Linked DNA regions of Homo sapiens: all the other regions are linked to region 2. The links come from fine-mapping of genetic effects on gene expression. A gene starts in region 2. Each other region holds a variant in brackets. All regions are shown on one strand. Distances are between the middles of the regions.

The links. PIP is the estimated chance that this variant, and not a neighbour inherited with it, causes the effect.
Region 1: its variant is the best candidate, but not a certain one, in a credible set for the expression of AP3B2 in pancreas (GTEx, PIP 0.63).
Region 3: its variant is the best candidate, but not a certain one, in a credible set for the expression of AP3B2 in lung (TOPMed, PIP 0.64).
Region 4: its variant is the best candidate, but not a certain one, in a credible set for the expression of AP3B2 in atrial appendage (GTEx, PIP 0.90).

Annotation. Positions count from the first base shown.
Region 1 is chr15:82,436,067-82,441,287 of GRCh38, reverse strand. GOLGA6L9 (golgin A6 family like 9) reads right to left here. Exons shown (of 9, transcript NM_198181.4): 8 at 5,219-5,221; 9 at 2,135-5,009. The coding sequence ends at 4,877. It also overlaps the pseudogene DNM1P36. Among named protein-coding and RNA genes, the nearest start is that of GOLGA6L9, 8.9 kb to the right of the region's middle. RefSeq lists enhancers at 513-1,015, 293-1,284. The variant G/T (reference allele first, on the strand shown) is at 2,795.
Region 2 is chr15:82,707,042-82,712,262 of GRCh38, reverse strand. It overlaps AP3B2 (adaptor related protein complex 3 subunit beta 2), which reads left to right and starts at 2,388. Exons shown (of 27, transcript NM_001278512.2): 1 at 2,388-2,669. The coding sequence starts at 2,557. It also overlaps the pseudogene LOC338963. RefSeq lists silencers at 2,335-2,384, 2,605-2,864.
Region 3 is chr15:82,754,221-82,759,422 of GRCh38, reverse strand. FSD2 (fibronectin type III and SPRY domain containing 2) reads left to right here. Exons shown (of 13, transcript NM_001007122.4): 13 at 1-4,061. The coding sequence ends at 75. SNHG21 (small nucleolar RNA host gene 21) reads right to left here. Exons shown (of 3, transcript NR_110098.1): 2 at 4,639-4,794; 3 at 2,217-2,519. It also overlaps SCARNA15. Among named protein-coding and RNA genes, the nearest start is that of SNHG21, 6.3 kb to the right of the region's middle. The variant C/T (reference allele first, on the strand shown) is at 1,990.
Region 4 is chr15:82,500,542-82,505,762 of GRCh38, reverse strand. It overlaps the pseudogene GOLGA2P10. Among named protein-coding and RNA genes, the nearest start is that of RPS17, 37 kb to the left of the region's middle. The variant C/T (reference allele first, on the strand shown) is at 2,867.

The DNA of each region.
Region 1 (5,221 bases), 270 kb after region 2:
GCTGATTGGGTCAGGCAAGTCCATCCCATCCGGGGAGCCCCAGGCCCCACTTCGACCTCTAAACAGATTCCTCCTCTTCTCAGAGACCTCCCTTTCCAAGCCTGCCTGGGTGGGTGTCCTGTGACTTGACAGTGGCTCCCCCAGCCCCAAAGCCAGCCCCCTTCTTCTGTGACTTAGTCTGTTGTAGTGGTGAGCTGACACGTCCAGGTTTGACCGTTGCTGAAACTTGTGCCCCCTCTGTGGTATGCCCCTGCCCTGTTCTATAAATAGCTATAAATTCTCTCTCTCACACACACACACACACACACATATATACATATATATACGTGGCCAACTGCCTCGCCTCTAGCACTGGGAATCAGTCCCCGTGCTGTGTTTGTGGAGTCTTGTAGCCCAGCAAGAGGAAGCTGTCTCCTGACATCGCCCCTCCAAAGTGCACCACCTCCAGTGAGCTTCCGGGACATGCGCGGCCTGTGGACAGCCAGCCCCCGCCATCCCTCCCGCCCTTCTGGCCAAGCATGGCGGTGCTGTGCAGGCAGCTGTGTGGCCTGACAGTCTCTACCAGTCCTGCTGTCCCTCGGCTGAGAAACCCATTTCTGGATGACAGAGAATGTGTCCTCTGCTGGCTGTGTTCTCTATGGAGCTCAGGGGAGGGAAAAGGCCAAGCCATTTTTAGGGTGCTGTTGGGAGCAGTGAAAAGGTCACACCCTTTTCAAGGGACACTTTTCCTGGAAAGTCCCTGGAGCTTAGCTGGCTCTTACCCTGTGAAGCCGGCTCTGGCCACTAGGGGACAGGGCCCTGAACTCAGCCTGGAGGGAACCTGCGGGGCAGCCGGCACTCTGGAGGGACAGACAGGCCACCCGGTGCAGACAGGAGAGGGAGGCAGGGGGACAGAACGGAAGACACCTGGGGTGGATGGAAGTCAGTGCCCTTGGGCACTGGTATCTGTCTTCCCTGCCACAGCTAGATCAGGCTTCTCAACCAGTTGGCTGTCAGGGCCAGAGTGTACTCCGTAGGCGCCATGGCAGTCCCCATGAAATCCACCAGGTGTCACCAGGCAGCATACAGGTAACAGGCCTGGAAGGTCCCCAACAGCCCAGCTGGACATGCTGAGACACTCTGGGGCTCCTCATTCAGTGGGACAAACTGCAGGACCCAGTGAGGGAAATGGGAACATACCAGGCCGAGCAGTATGGCTAAATCCATTTATTCCAAAATCAAAAGCAAAAAAAAAAAAAAAAACAGGAGTCCCATCACCAGGGAGCCATGACCCCATCCCCGCCTCCTTCCTCGCTCCTATGCTAGCAATAAATAAGTTTCCCAGCCGCGAATAATTATAAGAACCTCTTCCTCATATGCCAGCTGCAACCTCCGCTAGGTACAATACAGAATGTTACACAGCTACAGTATGTACACGGGGGAAGGGGGGCCACCCCCAGCAGCCTGTGCCCTGGCCTGGTCTACAGTTAACTCCACTGTCCCGCCTCAGCTGCCTCTCTGAGTAAGAAGATGGGAGCCCCCCTGAGGGAAAAGTTGCTTTGGTGAGAGTAAGAAGGCCATCAGACCTCCTCCAAACAAACCAACTCCACCAACCTCTGGCTCTTAAATAACAAACATCATCATCCAGAAATGTAAGGACTCAGCCTTGGTCAAGGTGGTAAAGGGTCTGTTTGTCTCCCTCCATTAGACAAGGGTCTTGTCTTGCTACCCTAATGGTAAAGGGCTGACTGGGGAGGGGCTGTAGGGACATGGTGGGGGTGAAGACTCCAGACCCACTTCTCCAGGCTTATGCTGACAGGGGCCTGCTTTTATTTATTTTTATTTTTATCCCATGACTTTTTTTAAATCCTGTAACTAATTTTTCATAACTTTTTAAAATAACTTTTCATAAAACTTTTTTTTTACTTTTTTTCCACAACTTTTTTTTGCCACTTTTCCACAGTATTTTTTTATCCTGTAACTTTTTCATCCCACAACTTTAATTCCTGTTAACTTTTTTAGTTTGTGTTCTTTTAATAAACACACTTACATAGTTACAATTTTGTAAGAATAAAAACCGATTACCTCATGCCAAGCATGCCGAGAATTTGCAGAGTCTCAATACCCAGTACTATAGTTTTCAAGACACACAAAATTTTTAGGCAAAACAGCACCTTGAAACAATTTAATAATGTATTACATTATAGTAGCATCACAGCAGCAGTCAATAATGCCACTTTAGACAAAAATCAGTATTTCCATTATGCATTCTGTGTATAAGAATTCATAAATCGGTAAAAGTCATTCTAAGAAAACTTGGCAAATACAGCTTTGGACTGGAATTGGCATTTCTTTGTCTACTTTTCCTTCCCCTAGATTCTTTGTTTTAAACTACAGTATTCATATTTTAAAATGTTTTAAATTATTTTAAGACGTTAATATAGCAGTTACATTTTTGAATAGTTATTTGAAAGTGACTGTAAGATAAAGTTTTAGAGAATCTATTATGGATAGGGTTGATTTACATTTTCACATTTTCTAAAAATCAGCTTTGGTTTTAGAACTGATTGTTTTTCATTTTGGGAAAACCTACCAGGTTTAATCAATTACTTTAAAAATAATTATCATATTTTGCAGTCTTTAAATAGGTGTTTTGATTCTTTACTCCCTACAGAAATTCAAATTTATTCAGTTGAAGTCACATTTTAAAATTCTATGTTCCTGCTGAACTCTAACCTTCTAATGTTGCCTTCTAAGCAAATTAAAGGCTGCCTTATACTGAATGAGGTAGAGAACAAATACTTGGCTGAATGAG[G/T]TACTGCAAAAGACTGCATGCACTTTGAAGAAAGACTTGTCATAGTTATTGTCATAGTTATTGTCATAGGATTTCCATTCTCTTTAGCTTTTTCTTAAACATATGACAAAATACCTACACAGAGAGTGGTATTTGAGTTAATATAGTACATTTATTTTTCAGACTGACATTCAGCTTAAATATGCCAGTATGTGATTTAATCCACAGGTACCTGATGAACACATTATTGTCAGATTGGTTACAGTTGCTAAATGCTATCTGAAGGTCATTCCTAGTCATTTATACGTGTCAGGGTAAAAGTGAAGCGATTTGAACTATAAAAATACCTTTGAAATAATTTATCAATGTATTAGGTAAGCTCAGTTTCAGAATGATAAACTGTTAGACCAAATAATGTGGCTAATTAACAGTGGTACGATTTCTAGCCTGAGGGTTTAAAATGGGCTTAAAGTAACTGTCTTTAAACTGAACTCAAAGAATGCAAAAGCGGCAAGTTCAGACAAGGCAAGAACAGGACCTTTAGTCCATTTTAAGCCATAAATATTACACAAAATATGCCTCTAACTGAAACTGAGAGGTATAAAAACATATTTCACTCTTTGTAAAGAACTTTGTGAGGAAATATAACTCTGTGATTGTATAGACACTTTCCTCATGACACTTTGACATTCACGAACAGTAGATTGTGCTGCAGTTTGTAAACGTTTTACGTTGCATAAACTGCTCCTTGATTTTCAAATGTAGTATAATACTGTCTACTAAAACTCCTTTTTGTTTCAACTAAGTACTCTCACATATATTAGTTTATAATAATGTTTGTTATTATTTTTAAAGTGTTCTCCATTCAAGGAAAAGAAGTAAATTCCTATGTCAGATGGTTGAAGACTAGCTATTAGCCAGAGAGGTCTAGATGGTAAAATCCATCTTCTAGCCTCAAATAAGCTCCATGAACACAGAGGAATGCCAGGTGTCACACAGCTTTCCTTCACTCGAATTCATTCTTGACTAGAGCCTGTATATGCCTGTTCCAGGGGCATTTAAACTCTTAAAGGATTTCTTCTGATCTTTACTAAATACATTAAGGAGAACGCCAACCAGTGCCCTTTTGTGTACTGGGACATGTAGTCATGTGATTAAAACAGGGAACATGAACTCTGACTTTAAAATGTATTGTAGATATAAATGCTCTCAGCTAGAAAAGGTTTTCCACATCCACAGTCATGATGGGAGCCTTTCATTCCTCAGAAATAATCCCTTTTCAGGTCATCAAAAAAGAGTACAACTGCCACAGCTCATGAGGCAGTATCTTCATGAGCCTAGAGCACATACAAATCCTAAGGGAACTACCGTAGTACAGCGCTCATTCTTGGCACCGGAACAAATGAAACATATTCTATCCTGCACACACCTGCCAAAGCAGGCCACTTTCCTCTTCTGGGAGATTTAAAAACCTCCCCAAAATGTTATTACTCCCATCCCCAATACACAGAAAAAGGGGGAAAGGCTGTTTCCAGAGGGCAAACCACATATTGAGCTAATGAAGAGCTCACTGTGATTAGGATTCGATCAAACATAACAGCAGAACATAAGGAAATTTTATCTGAATTCCGTAATGAATATACAGGCTGTACTAACATTAAAAAAGCATGGCAGCCTATCCCAAACCAGCAAGAACAGTTGTGTGCATACAGTGGGTCTTTGTGTGTTTGAACTCCCACCACATAAGGGCAAACTCGATATGCATGCTAACGTCCTATAATTATCAAATTAAAGAAATGCTAAAAGATGCCAGAGTGAACATGAGAGAAAGACCCACTCTCATTTAACTTTTTACAAATAAATTTAAATTATAAATTAGAAACAAAAATAAATTTAAACTATAAATTAGAAACACAAATAAATTTAAACTATAAATTAGAAACAAATAAATTTAAACTATAAATTAGAAACACAAATAAATTTAAACTATAAATTAGAAACACAAACATAAGTGGCTCTAACATTCAAATGAAGTAAATGAATTGTGTAGGATATTAACCCCTTAAATGTTTTGTTTTTTTTTTTCAATTTCTTGACCCGCTCTTAGATGATGGTGATGTTTAGCTCCCTGTTCTCGGCAGCCCGAAAAGAATGGCATGCAGCCTCTCCTGCTCCTCCTGCCGCCTCTCCTGTACCAACAGCTTCTCCACTCAAGCCTGGGTGCTCCTGGGGAGTCCTGCATTAGAGGAAGCAGCTGCTGGATCTGCTGTGCAGTGGGGTTGTCATGGGGGAGAACCCTCCCTGTCCTCTCCCGGTGCAGCCTCCATGCTATCAGTGAGGCTCAGCTCACTAAGATCTTCAGAGAGAGGGAGGGGGTGGGAATCTGGGCACAGTGCGAGCCTCCCCTGCTCCTGCCTGCCCACCCCGCCTGAGGGCTCTACTCACCAC
Region 2 (5,221 bases):
GGTGTTGCCTTCAGGAGCAGTGGCAAGATGGGAGCTGGTTGGGGAAGGGGATCCTAGCGCAGGGGGGAGGAGGAGAGAATGGAATGGCTGGACTTTGAGATGAGAAGACAGTTGGATGGGGAGGAGGCACCATTTGCTGGAACTGAAGGGTTCTCAGTAGGGGCTCGAGGCAGGATGTATCTGTGATATCTGGACCTCTGGAGTCCCTTAAGCACAAGGAGGCAAGTGTGTGGCAGTGAAGACATTCTGCCTTGGGCCCAAGCCCAAGACAGGTCTCCCTGAGCCCTGGGCAGACCATCCGACCTATGGTCATTGGAAGGACCCACCTCCTCCCTATCCCAGGCCTGTGTAAACGCCAGGAAGGCAGGTCCCTTTCTCCATGCAGGCCCTGACTGGGGCAGTCAGCACCATTAAGTTCTTCCTCTCTGAGGCTTTCCTGGGTCAACACTTCGAGGCTGTGTAGTTGGAGGGCAGGGAGCCTGAGCCAGGAGACGTCTTCCTGTTCAGGCTGATTCCCCCCACCTGACGCTGGTGCGGGGCCCACGTTGGCATATACTGTGGCCATGGAGAGATCATCCACTTTGAGGGTGAGTGCCTCCAGCAGAAACACAGGCCCAAGTCTGCGGAGAGGCTGCCCAGCCAAGCCACGCCCCACCAGTGAGCTGGCTACTCGGGGATAAAGACTGAAGTCCCAGGCTGGGGGTACGTTTCTCTGAAAATGGGGTTTGGGCACTCAGGGTCCCTGAGGTCTCAGGAAATGGGGGTGCGGGATCACAGGGCATAGGACCTAAGCCTGGCTCTGATCCGCACCCCTCTGGCGATCCCCGCAGGCAAGAACTCAGGAGGCTGTGGGCTCCTGGGAAGTTTCTGGGCTCCTGGAAAGGCATCGTATCCAAACAGGGGCAGCGCCCGCTGCTGCGCTCCTGCTGGCGCGTGCTGCGCAGAGTGAGCGAAGCGACGGACGCGGACCCACCATCCTATCACTCCATGCGCAGCAACTGTGTGCACTTTGCACTGTGTCTGCTCGTCCCAGGTCCCAGCCTGGACCCCCGGCAAATAGACGGGAGCTCCAGCAGGTCGGTGAGCGTGGCCCAGCTACCTGCACAGGACCCATCCCACCTCCTGAGCAGACTAGCCAAAGCGCCTTATAAACGCGCAACTGCAAAATCCAGGCCCTTCTCTTCCCACTCCCCACCCAGGCCAGTTTTCTCCAAATTCAAGATCCACTTTTCTCTGGCAGGCACAAAGCCACCGGAACCAAGCGGACCCACCCACTTGTCTAGGTTATCCCAACAGAACCTTCTCATTACCCCAATAGAACCTTACCCCAGTAGAATTACCCCCAATAGAACTTTTCTACTGAGCCAAGCTCCACCTTTCTGGGCCCCACTCCTTCCCAGGTAGGCCCGCCAATTCTGCCCATGGAGACTTCGGGATGCTAGTTACAGACCAAGACTCAGGCCTTAGGAACTCCTCCAGTCCCCATGCCCAGCTAAAAGACTCCAGCCACCTCAACTGATGCCCAACTGGATCCTACCTCTTCCCCCAGCCCAATTCACTACTTTCCATCGGATCCAAGCCTTCCTTCCTTGGGCCTAGGGGTCACTCGGGCTCGGGAGCTGAACTGGAGGGCTCACATGACTCAGGAGCCCTGGTGGTCACACCAGACCCTTCTCTTCCTTTTCAGGTGTCAATGGACGTGGACGTGTCCCCGGATTAAGCATGACCTTGGCCCTCCTGGGTGGACGTGGAGGCTTCAGAAAGATTCATTAAACTACTTTCCAAAGCTTAATTAGATGTTCACCGTCCTCTGTATCCTGTTTCCCATCTCTCTAAGCCCCCAAGGGCTCCTCGGAGCTCCCTGACCTTAATTCCTTAAATTCCGCCACCTCCAGGAAGCTCCTCGGCTTCCTGCTGCCAAGCCAGATTTTGTAGGAAAGGTGGGGCGGGAAAGGGAGCGTCCTTAGGTATCTGAGGCCGGTCCTCGGGTGCGGTGACCCCTTCCCGCTCTAGAACCCCCAGCCTGCGGGCACAGCCTTCTTTCCAGTTCCCGCTTTCCCTCCACGGCGTGGGTGAGCATCCGCGCGTGCGTCTGGGGAGAGCGGAGCCCCAGAGGCCCGTCCCGCCGAGGCCAGGTGGTCGGGGGTGGGGGCAGCTATTCCACATCCCCTGCAAGACGGTCCCAGCGTCCGTCCAGCAGACTCGCCCACCTTTAGATCTGGAGACGAGCCAAGTCGCTTTAAAGGGCAGAAGACGCCCTGAAGAGGGCATTTCCTAGGGATGGGCGGGGCCAGGCCCTGACGCACCGCCCCTGTCGCCTCCTCGCGGACACGCCCTCCGCTCGGCTGGCGCCGGTGCCTTTAAGACCTCAGCGCGCGGCCCTGATTGAGAAATCCGCGCGCAGCCTCCGCCGCTGCACACTGCAGCCTCTGCTGAACCCCTGCCGCGCCGCCGCCTTCGCCAGCCCGGACCGGACCGGCCCGCCTTCCCTTCCTCCGCTCCAGCCGGCCTCCGGCCCCGCAACCTCCTCCTCGGCGAAGTCTCCCTGGCCGCCCCATGTCGGCCGCCCCCGCCTACAGCGAAGACAAGGGCGGCTCCGCTGGCCCCGGGGAGCCCGAGTACGGCCACGACCCCGCGAGCGGCGGCATCTTCTCCTCCGACTACAAGCGGTGAGGGAGCCCGCCAGGAAGCTCGCGGGAGGGTTGGGGCCGGGGACCGGGCGAGGCGCGCGGGCACCATGGACAGCGCCCGGCCCCAGCGCCGGCCCCGCCCCGGCCGCGCCGACCGGAAGCCCGCCCGGCCCCCTCCTGCGGCCTGGAGCCCCGGCCCAGCGCGGGCAGCGCTGGCACCCCGGCTCCAGGGGCCGGCCTAGGACGCGGAGGGGGGCAGATAGGGGCTGGCGGGGGATGGGCCAGCTCAGTTTCGAGAGGAGAAACCCTCCGGTTCCAGGTGTTTCTCCGGTTTGCGGCGTTGCGTTAGGGGTTCCCTTCCTTTTTCGTGCTAGGCGGGTTGGCTTCCCAAAAATGTGGGGGAGGGGTCTGAGTCAGCGAACTTGAGCTTGAGCCTGGGGCCTCTTCAGGAAGGCGGGCCCTGGATGTACTTGCACAGCCTCCCAGCTTGGCCCTGCTGCAAATTCATTTCCCCTCCCTCTGGTCCCCATCTCCATCTGACCCTCACATCCCTGCTCCTGGCATTGCCCCTGTAGTTCAGCTCCACCTTCACACCCTCCCCCACCTTTGATTCGTTCGTTTGTTTCTTCATTTGTTTATTCGTAAATTCTGCAACAAGCATTTATGAAAAGCCAACTGTGTCGAGTCCTGAACTAGTCACGGAATACAACTGTGAACATGAGACCCTTCTTGTCCTCACGATGCTCTAGAGGGGAGCACAGATGAAGAAGCAGTCAGGGACAGTCGAGTGTAATGGGGGCAGTGGGAGCAGGGAGAGGACCTAGTCTCTGGCGCCGGAGAGAAGGAAGACAGGAGCGTGAGGTATGTTCCAGGCAGAGGAAAGGGCTTTCAGGAAGGTTGAGAGCCAGGCCACAATCTGTGTGAGCCACTGGACTGACCAGAAAAGAGGGTGGGGAGGACTCCTGAAGGATTCTAAGCAGGCGACATAATCAGATTTATATTTTAGAAGGACGTCAGGCTGCTGCATTGTGGAGAAGAGATTGGAGGTGGGCCAGATTGAACAAGAGACAAGGGAGGTGGGTCTTGAAGTTCACAGGCCTGGCATGATTGTGGCCTAGACCAGGGGAGAGGCAGAAGATTTGAGGCTGTGGAAGAGGTGGAAGCCTCAGACCTGATGATTAATTGGATATTGGGTGGGGGTTTAGAGGGACAGGGGGAGAAGATGAGGATTTTCACGCACGTCCATGTGAAGAGACCACCAAACAGGCTTTGAACAATAAAGCTTTTTAATCACTTGGGTGCAGGCCAGCTGAGTCCGAAAAAAGAGTCAGCGAAGGGAAATGGGGTGGGACCGTTTTACAGGATTTGGGTAGGTAGTGGAAAATTACAGTCAAAGGGGGTTGTTCTCTGGCGGTGGGGGGACACAAGGTGCTCAGTGGGGGAGCTTTTGAGCCAGGATGAGCCAGGAGAAGGAATTTCACAAGATAATGTCATCAGTTAAGGCAGGCACAGGCCATTTTCACTCTTCAGTTACTTCAGGCCATCTGGATGTATACGTGCAGGTCACAGGGGATATCATGGCTTAGCTTGGGCTCAGAGGCCTGACATTCCTGTCTTCTTTTATTAATAAGAAAAATAACATAAAATAGTGTTGAAGTGTTGGGGCAGCAAACATTTTGGCGGGGGGTGGTATGGAGAGATACTGCTTCTCCATAGCCTTGAAGGGCTGCTTCGAGCGGGATTGGGGTGGCGTGGGAACCTAGAGTGGGAGAGATTAAGCTGAAGGCAGATTCTGTGGTAAGGGATGATATTGTGGGGTTGTTAGAAGAAACATTTGTTGTATAGGATTATTGGTGATGGCCTGGATACGGTTTTGTATGAATTGAAAAACTAAATGGAATAAGAGAAGGAGAAAAACAGGTATTAAAGGACTAAGAATTGGGAGGACCCAGGACATCCAATTAGAGAGTGCCCAAGGAGGTTCAGCATAGCCCTGCCAGCAAAGATTATTTATTTACTTTAAGAGGGAGTTAAGACTGGCAGTTTGGGGATAGCACCAGGAGATATCAGCTGTAATGGTTTGGAGAAACAGTGTAAACCGGCAGTGTAAACAAGAGCAGGGCATGTATGAGTAGTTGAGTATGGTGAATAGGAGTATGACTAGTCAGAAGATAGTAGGGATGACAAGTTTTCTGGGGCACAGTCCAAGTTGGTCTGGTGTCTGGAATGAGACTGGGGCCTAATAAAAAGGAGCATCTATACAGGAGCTTGAATGGGCTGTACCCTGCAGCATTCCGAGGACAGGCCCAAATTCTGAGAAGGGCAAGTGGTAAAAGTATTGTCAGTCCTTTTTAAGTTGGTGGCTGAGCTTGGTGAGGTGTGTTTTTAAAAGACCATTAGTCCGTTCTACCTTTTCTGAAGATTGAGGATGGTAAGGGGTATGAAGGTTTCACTGAATACCAGGAGCCTGAGAAACTGCTTGGGTGATTTGACCAGTAAAGGCTGGTCTGTTATTGGACTATATAGAGGCGGGAAGGCCAAACTGAGGAATTATGTCTGACAGAAGGGAAGAAATGACCGCAGTGGCCTTC
Region 3 (5,202 bases), 47 kb before region 2:
TTTTCTTTGGAAAAGCCTGGGTGTCTAAAGGTACATAATGGCATTTCAATGCCAAAACATGTCACTTTCTATTAGAACATTCTGATGTCCAGTTTCCTGTCTTCCATGCCTACCCCTCTCGCAGCTGCTCACGCCTTAGCTGGCTGAACCTGGCACTTAAGCACCATGTGCCCAGCACAATTTATGGCTCATGCTATTATCTGACTGGTGTGCTAGCGCTCATTTCACCCAACCTGGATTCTAGTCCTGTGTGCTGCTACCTGTGTGCTGCTAGGATAGTCATTACCAGGCCCAGCTGTAAAATAAAGGCTCAGACTAAACGAACTCAAAAGTCTTTGAAGCTGTCAAACTATATTCGTGTATATGCAAAATATCTTGAGTTTCCAAGACCTAGAGAGCTTGGGAGAGGACGAGGGTAGTCTTAATGGCTCCAGCAGCACCAGTACACCCATGCATTTCATGAGTCAGCCAAGAATACACTTGAGAAGGCGAGAGGCTGTCTGTAGAGAACCAGGGAAGCTGTGTGCCCTTCTCAATGTCTTCTACCCTCGTTTTCCCAATAGTGAGCAGCACTGTGGTGAGGTCCCTTCCACTGTGTACTCTGCATACAGGGTATTCCCTGTTCCACTCCTACACAGTATGCACCACTCTCTAATTTTGAAATTACCTCTATAATGCCTAATTCCATGAAGGGAGGGACAGTGCCTGTTTTGTTCATTGCTAGATCACCAAGGGCTAACACATAACAGCTGTCACCAAGTATTTGTTGAATAAATTAGTATCTTCTTCAGCCACTGCTCTTTGGCCTCTTACTGCTCTCCATGTGAAGGATGGCAGGGCTCTTTCAAAACTACAGCAAAGGACCTATGGCCAAGAAATGGGAAAAAACCTAGAATGGAGGCAGCGTGAAAGAACAGAAGGGCATCTGTGGCATATTAGCAAATGCACAACAATTTTTTAAAAGAAATTAACAGCCCACCAAAGGGCAAAGCTGAGCACGGGAAGGAAGACTGATCTCTAGCTAGGCAGCTTTCAGGCATCCTGCCTCACTGCCCCCAGGCCATTCTGTGAGCTCAATGCCCAACTCCATCAGCTACATTCCTGGTTCTCCTGTTCAAGTTTCCAGTTGCCACTTAAGCTCTGCACACACAGCATTTTCAAAGCTTGTGAGTGAAGCTGCAGAATAATTCCATTTGTGAAGCAATTACAATTCAGTATCATGTCCCACAGATGCCTCTAAACCCAGATATGCCCTAATCTCATCATTTAAGGTTTTGTGTTTAAAAAAAAAAAGTCCACTTTTCTTTTTTCTGGCGAAACCCCGTCTCTACTAAAAATACAAAAAATTAGCCGGGCATGGTGGTGGGCGCCTGTAATCCCAGCTACTCAGGAGGCTGAGGCAGGAGAATTGCTTGAACCCGGGGGCAGAGGCTGCAGTGAGCCGAGATTGTGCCACTGCACTCCAGCCTTGGCAACAAGAGCGCAACTCTGTCTCAAAAACAAACAAACAAACAAACAAAAAACCTCTGATGTTTTCCAGCACCTGCAAAGTCTGACAAACTGAAAGACTCTCATCTCCTACTAAACTCTGCCTACTCGTATAAATGGCAGCTCAGATTCCTGAATTAACAATTCACACTGACAATTTAATAACTCGTTATACACACACACACCTATCCTGCCAAGCTGGACTGTCTACTCTGAAACAAGGGACAGCAGATGTAAGCACAGAAATAGTTCCAGTTATAAACAATTAAAAGATACATATCATGTATATTTAAAAATGTTCTCGGCCGGGCGCGGTGGCTCACGCCTGTAATCCCAGCACTTTGGGGGGCCAAGGTGGATGGATCACAAGGTCAGGAGATCGAGACCATCCTGGCTAATACGGTGAAACCCCGTCTCTACTAAAAATACAAAAAAATTAGCCGGGACTGGTGGCGGGCGCCTGTAGTCCCAGCTACTCGGGAGGCTGAGGCAGGAGAATGG[C/T]GTGAACCCGGGAGGTGGAGCTTGCAGTGAGCCGAGATGGCTCACAGATCAAGACTCCATCTCAAAAAAAAAAAAAAAAAAAGTTCTCAGCTACTGAAATAGAAACTACCAAGTAAGAAACAGGATATCACAGAGAAGGCAAGTTTGAATTCAGGGTTCTAATAGGCTTTATGGAATACTACACGTTAGTATGAACACGGATAAATGGATTAAAAACTCAACACGTATAAAGTTTTAATTAAATTTTTATTTGACCAAGAAAAAACTGTCTAGAATTGCCTGACATTTAAAATCCACTTAAAGCAGATTAGCAACTTCAAGCATCACAATTATTCAGCATAAAGAGCCTTTGTTGAAACATCTTTCTCATTTATTTAGAAGAAAACATCTAGAACAGAACCAAGCAAAACTTTTGTATTTTTGTAAAAAATCTCAATTCCTGAAACTACTATAAACAATCTACTGAAACTGTATTCAGCAAGGGACAGATTTACCTCAAGGCCATGTTCACCTGCAACCTGCTGATAAGTCTGTTAAAAAACAAAGCAAAAAAAAGAGTTTTTAAAAATTAGACCACTGTAGCCACAATCCCTAACACTGGACAGTTAAAACAAAAGTTATCAAAATCTGTTCTTTTCTTAGCTTTACCTGTATCACTTTATAACTCCTGAGAAAGTCATTCACATAAGCTGTGGCCTCCCCACCTTAACAAAGGGGAAAAAGAATATGTAAAACCACCACAGAATCTTGGCGTAAACTAACATGGGTTTAGTAATACAGAGTACAGTATTCAGGATTTAAGGCACCCTTACAAGTCAGAATTGGAAAGTTGGTTTGAGACTTGCAATCTAAAATGACACTGATTTCTGATAAAATTAAATGACTTTTATTTAGAAAAGTGTGTTTAATAAATTACTTCCTGCTGGTTCAAATGACACACAATCACTTTGTATACATCCAATAAGATATTTCTGAAGTGTATACTTGGTCAAAAGTAAAAAGCAGAGCAAATGCATGGACAGTGGGGCCTTCTTCTTAATACTTCTCATCCTCCAAAATCTGTTAAAATCATCATCTTCCACAACTCACACACTGGAAGCTGTCCACAGCACAATTCACTGTGATGTGGCATTCTGTAAATAAGACTACATTGGTCTTGATGCAAGGCGGTTCAGCTACCAGACTGCACTATAAGAAAAGTCCTCTCCTCAACTTACCAAGAAAACTTCGCCAATTTCTAGTCACCTTCCTATCAATTAGTAGAGCAAGATTCTCACATGTTCACTATGTCTTTCTCCAGTTTTCTCATCTATAAGTGTACTACTCCTATTTTCTATAGGAAGACAATGGAAAGCGTGTAATTGCTGTTGGTAGATAAGTAGGTCTTGAATTTATTTTGCAAACAAGACCTGTTCTATCTACCTTTTCATTTAGGAGGCTAAAAGCAGAGTCAGCTTGATTTCAAGGACTCTATTTTCTTAGTCTCCAGAAGAACATAACCAAATCCAGCTTTTAAAACACTGTCCTTTAACAAGTCAAGATACTCAAATAAAGATCATGTATAACTTCAAGCTATAGGAGATTAACTCTGTACATATGCTTGTTTCACTGTAACCAATGGTTAATTAATCTAAATGCAAGAGAAAAGTTATTTGGAAAGAAGACCCCAGCTGGTCAGCATCTTTTCTGTCATCAGGAAGTCTCCTGGAAGGAGTATGACTATGACCTGGGCACAACAACTGCCCCTAAGTTAGTACTTATTTTAGAGTTGCTACTGAACAGGTGGTGGTTCTTGTCAAGTATATCATGTCTGACTACTTTACTGCTTGTTTTCTGCTATCACCAGTTCCAGAAAAAAAAAAAAAAAAAATTAAGCCCAACTCACTAATTGATTGCTTTTTCATTTTCCCAGACTGTGACAGAATCATGGTTTTTAGCTCTATTTTCACCTTACTCAAATCCTGGAGGAATTAAACTATCATTTATTTGAAATGTTACAAATTAGCCTGCAGTTGATTCAAACAACATGTAGTCACTCAGACATAGCAAATAAAAATGTTTTGGTATATGAACTTGGATTCTAATCTTGCTGTCTCTACTACTCTCATTCCTAAGTATAAATGTTAGGTCTCTTGCTTGAAAGGAATTTAAGAGATGCCCTTAAATTCAAACAGACTGGCTCGCAGAAAGGAATATAATCCATTCACTGGGAAAGTACACAGCCAACAAAACTGAGATTTCCCAACTATGCACTGTAACAATGCAGAAACACAGTTTTAGAGATGGCTTTACTGGGTATATACATCGCTCTTGGTAGACCCATCTATTATTCTGCCACCCAGAAAGATTCTTACCCTCCTACTTCCTTCCAAACATTCATTTAATTTAAAGGTGACAGGGACAGGGAGAGGGAAGGAAAAAACAAGAAGCACTATCCAAAAGTAAGAACAGTACTCTGGAGAAAGGTAAAAGATACTCAACACTGTTTTTTGTACCATTTACGATTTATAAATCAGCCACAGAGTCCTAGGCACCCAGAATGGACCTCCCCTTCCTTGTCTACCTAATGCCTGTATAGCTCCAAAATCACCTCTTGGAAACACTGCCTTATTCCTCCCCCTCCCAGGAGAGGTTAAGTGCCACACTCACCTCTTTTAGATTACTTCAGTGGCTATACTGCAATCATTGACTTGTGTCTGCTCCACTTGACTATAAGCAAATTGAAGGCAGGGTTTGTGCCTTCATAATCTCTGAATGATCTGAAGATGGAAATAACTGCTTTGTGCTTTCAGGGAGCTCATATACCTGCAAAGAGAAAAGAGACATCAAATTATCTTCCAAAATCAAAGGAAAAGCCTCTTTATTAGAAAGCAAAGCAGCTTTCAAATTTGTGTGTGCTTGGGGAGTAGAAGGAAACATTAAAAATATGAACCTGCTGGGCATGGTGGCTCACACCTGTAATCCCAACATTTTGGGAGGCCAAGACAGGCAGATCACCTGAGGTCAGGAGTTCGAGACCAGCCTAGCCAACATGATGAAACCCCGTCTCTACTAAAAATACAAAAATTAGCCGGGCATGGTGGTGGGCGCATGTAATCCCAGCTACTCAGGAGGCTGAGGCAGGAGAATTGCTTGAACCAGGGAGGCGGAGATTGTAGTGAGCCAAGATCACGCCATAGCACTCCAGCCTGGGCAACAAGAGTGAAAACTCCG
Region 4 (5,221 bases), 210 kb after region 2:
GTTCTTAAAACATTGGCCGGGCACGGTGGCTCACACCTGTAATCCCAGCACTTTGGGAGGCCGAGGTGGGTGGATCACCTGAGGTCAGGAGTTTGAGACCAGCCTGGCCAACATGGTGAAACCCCGTCTCTACTAAAAATACGAAAATTAGCTGGGCATGGTGGCACACGCCTATCATCCCAGCTACTCGGGAGGCTGAGGCAGGAGAATGGCTTGAACCCAGGAGGCAGAGGTTGCAGTGAGCCAAGATGGTGCCACTGCACTCCGGCCTGGGTGACAGAGTGAGGCTCCACCTCACAACAAACAAAAAATTATGAGATTTTCCTTTTTTGCAATTTTTTTAAAGCTTAGCAGCTATTATTAGTGTTCGTGTATTTTATGTGTGGCGCAAGACAATTCTTCTTCCAGCGTGGCCCAGGGAAGCCAGAAGATTGGATCCCGCTCCTTTAAGTTTTATGGATTAACAAGGGGTTAATTCCTGTATCAGTTTCACTGATGTTTCTTCTGCTTGATGCAGGAACACTTGACAAGTTAGTTAAGGTAGATTGGTCCATAAATGTATAGGTTCTTTCATTCCCATGTCCTAGGCAAGTCTGAGCAGGACCTGGAAAGCTGATTAAAAGGCCAGTGAGCACAGTGAGCTTAATTGTAAATTAAATGGATATTTAATACATTAAGAAGGCACTCAAGCCTTTCAATCTTTCATTTTCATCCATGCTTGCTATTTGAATCTGATGGGCTTGATATTGACCTTGTTCTTCTTGTAAAAATGTTGGTTATTGCTGCCTTTCTCAAGCTTGGTTTTCAGTGTGGATTTCTGCAGATAATTTTTGCACCTAAAAGTACAAAGTCATTAAGTGAAGGCAGTCAGGAAGGAAAGAGTGCCCTGAGCCAGGAGGTCTGTTATAGCACATGGGGTGGGCAAGAAAATGAATGGACATGGGCATGGAGGTGGTTCAGTCAGTGTGGGAAGGCCACCTGCTTGTCAGCTTTCTACTGCGTTGTCCAGCAGAACACGTTGAAGCTTGGGGCCTGCAACTCGTGTAGAGATGATTGCATTTAGGAGGCTGAGGTAGATTTTTTCCCTCTTAAGTGTGTGCTCACTGCTTTTTGGCGAAGTCTTGACCCGAGACATACACAGCTTGATCTGTGAGGATTTTAACATCGAGATGGTTCTGTTATTTGAGTTAGGCATGGCTAGGCTACCAAGGCATTGCTTTTCAGTCCAAACATTTGGTCATTTCAATTTATTGTTAGTGAGGTTTTTGCGATTTGTTAGAACACAGAGTTTGGGATTTTGTCTGTTTTTTGCATGTGTGAACGACACTTGATATTGTTGTTTATATTGCTGGTTAGTATGTGCCTTCATTTACCTATTGTGAGTAAGAAACTTCCTCAGATCAAATTATAGTGAAGTCGCTTGGTTCTGTTTCTCTGACTCTTAAGAGGATGAGATCACTTTATACACAAACTCAAGCTGTTTGGTAAAGGACCTACCATTCTGAGCATTCATAGCCTAGATGAAGTCCTGGTCCAATCACCAAGTTAAACTTTTAAAAAACATGCTGTTCTTAATGTTCAGGAATTCAACCCTGGAAGCCTTCTCTAAATCTTAGTGAGAGTTTTATGAGAATTCATTTAGTGAAAATATCTATCAGGGAATCCGGCTATTAACTTTGAGGAGGGTCATGCCTTTTAGTGGTTAGAGAGGCAAGCTGTAGCCTCCCTTCTCAGAGAAGGGGAATTGAGGAAGAGGGTTCTAGTGGTCCCTTGCAATCCTCCCCTCACTTTCCAGGCTCCCTAGTAAGACCGGAAGAAGTCCCTGAGTAAACAGCATTTTGTGAGTTTGAGGGACTATGTAAAAATGTAAGTGAACATACAATGGTTTTGCTTTGATAACTGTTTTAAATATCCTGTTGGTTGTTGAAACTTCTGTGACGGTGAAGCCTTTTTTGCCTTTATTTTTCAATCGGAAGATCTTTCTTCCCCACTTGAAAAGATGGAGTCTGGGGTCAATCCCTGACCCCGCTTCCTTCCTAAATCTCTTAGTGTATAGCATACAGCTGGGCATATGGTAATCTCAGGCACGGGATTGTACTCATAGAGCTATGCTTGACACCTAGGTCTTTAGATGGCTTCTATATTTTTGATGACAACTTTTAATTTTATTCTCATTTATTCCATTTCTGTTTCAGTGTCCTGGGTCATGAAACTTAATCCACAACAAGCTCCCTTATATGCGAGTAAATCATACGATTTCTTTTCATTTTGTATTTATTTGTTCTGTTTACTTGTTATAATAAGCCACACTCTCACATGATAGATCCTCAAGGAAAATTTTAACCATATGTGCATGAATATATTGGTGTAAGACACTTCAGAAATTGAGTTTGATTTAGTAAGTACTAAATGGCTAATCTGTGCATGGAACTGAAAACAAATAATACCTGTAAGACTTGAGAGTTAATTTAGTCAGGGCGATAGTATGCACGTATGAAACAAATTGTCCTGCCAAACAGTACTGTAGCTTCTTATTTTTTACCTGCAGTGCATTCCTGTAAAAGTAGTGTGGAGATCCTCCTACTGCCACTGTGATTTACGTTATGTTGCCACTAGGTGGCACTATGTCATTGGCAAGAGTGCTGTTTTCTTTAGGACTCTGGGTGAAAGCTGATATATCATCTCCCTGAAGTGAGGGACTTTGAAGATAAAATTGATAAATGATTGAATCAAGGCTGGAAAAGGTAGGCTGTAGGCGACTATTCTTCATTATTGTAAGAGTGAATTAATTGAATTTGGGTGGTGAAAAGTACCCGTTTGATGAGAAGCCAGCTTAGGGTTGTGGATGGTTAGAGCTGTGAGAGGC[C/T]AGTAGATGCTGGGTTGCTATGCTCTGGAGAGGGTGAGAAAATATATTTGTAATAGGACTTGATTCCAGCCTTCAAGAATATGGATCATTTATTTGGACAAAACGTCCCCAGAATTAGTTGAAGACAAAAGGCAAATGGTCAGGAATGGGAGGCAGTGAACATAGTGTTGGATGAATAGTCGGGGGATGGTCAGTGGAAACTCTGGCCCACCCAAGTTTGTGTCAGGTAATAATGGGAGATAAGCCTGAAAAGGTGGATAAAGCTCAATTGTGAAGGAAGACAAAGGTGTGAGGATTTTGTTTTGTGACCACCGAGGAGCCATTGATGGTGTTTATTTTAAGGATGCTTTTCCTTTTATGCGTTTGTACATAAAAACATAAATGTACTTAACCATTCTGTATTAATAATAGTCATTTACCTTTCCAACATAAAATGTTCATGTAACTTCTGCATAGCTGATTTTTACGTTAAATGTAACATGTAAAGAAATATATGTGTGTTTTTAGAAGACGTCTTATGTGCTCATTTTCTTTCTAGATTACTTGGAGATAATTTATGTTTACCAGTGGTTTTGCATGTGAACTGGGTACCTTGGGTTATTTATTATTATTATTATTATTATTTAGAAAACGGGTCTCGCACTGTCATCCTTGTTGGAGTGCAGTGGAGCGATCATAGCTCGCTGCAGCCTTGAAGTCCTGGGCTCTAAGCAGTCCTGCTTCAGCCTCCCGAGTAACTGGGAGTACAGGCGCATGCCACCATGCCGAGCTAAATCCTCCCTTTTAAAGTGTGTGATTCTTTGGTTTTTCGTGTGTATACAGTTTTGTAATTGCCATTGTCTGACCAGAACATTTTCATCACCCCCCAAAAAAAGTGCCATATCCATTAGCAGTCACTCACCATTCCCTGCTCCTCTCAGGCTGTGGCAACCACTTGTATACTTCCTGTCTTTATTGATATACCTATTCTGGAAAGTTCATATATATGTATGATATATATGATGTATATATGATGTATATATGATGTATGTGGTATATATATGATATCATATATAATATGATATCTATCATATCTATCATATATAATATGATATCTATCATATCTATCATATATAATATGATATCTATCATATCTATCATATATAATATGATATCTATCATATCTATCATATATAATATGATATCTATCATATATATCATATATAATATATCTATCATATATATCATATTATATATATATCATATGATATCTATATCATATATATCATATGATATCATATATCTCATGATATCATATATCTCATATGATATATATCATATATCATATATATCATGATATATATCATATATCATATGATATATGATATATAATTTTTGTAAATATATATGATGTATATGAAAAAATATATATCATATATGATATATGATTTTATATATTTATATATAGAAATTTATATATATAAAATTATATATAATATATATAATTATATATATATAAAAGTTCATGTATATATAAAATCATGCAATACACGGCCTTTTGTGACTGGCTTCTTTAATTTAGCATAGTGTTTTCAAGATTCACTCATGTTAGAACATGAATCAGTACCTTGTTCTTTTTATTAATGAATGACAGTCCAATGACTGGTTACATCACATTTTACTTATCCATTCACCAGTTGATGGGCAGTTGAGTTGTTTCCACTTTTGGTCTATTATGCATAATGCTGCTGTGAACAGCAAGTTCTGGTGAAGACATATGTTTTCATTTCTCTTGGGTATATACCTAAGAGTAGAATTGCTTGGGTGTATGATAACTGTGTTTAACATTTTGAGAAATTGGAAAACTGTTTTCCACAGTGGCTGCACCATTTTACATTCCTACCAGCAGTGTGTAAGGACTTCAGTGTTTCCACGTGCTTGCCAACACATGTTATCTGACTTTCTGATCTATAGCCACCCTAATGGGCGTGAAGTGATACCTCATTGTGGTTTTGATTGCATTTCCCAAATGGCAAATGATTTTGAGCATCTTTTTATGTGCTTATTGGCCGTTTTTCCGTATCTTTGGAGAAATGCCTATTCACATCCTTTGCCTGTTTTTAAATTGGGTTGTCTTATTGAATTGTAAGGGTTCTTTGCATATTCTGACTACAGGTCCCTTATCAGATACATGATTTGCAAAAATTATCTCTCATTCTGTGGGTTGTCATTTCACTTCCTTGATGCTATCCTTTCAAGCAAAATTTTCAGTTTTGATAATGTTCTGTTGTTGATTTTTTTTTGGCATCATATCTAAGAACAATTCTTTGCCTAACCCAGAGTCACAGAGATTTACTCCTATGTTTTCTTCTAGAA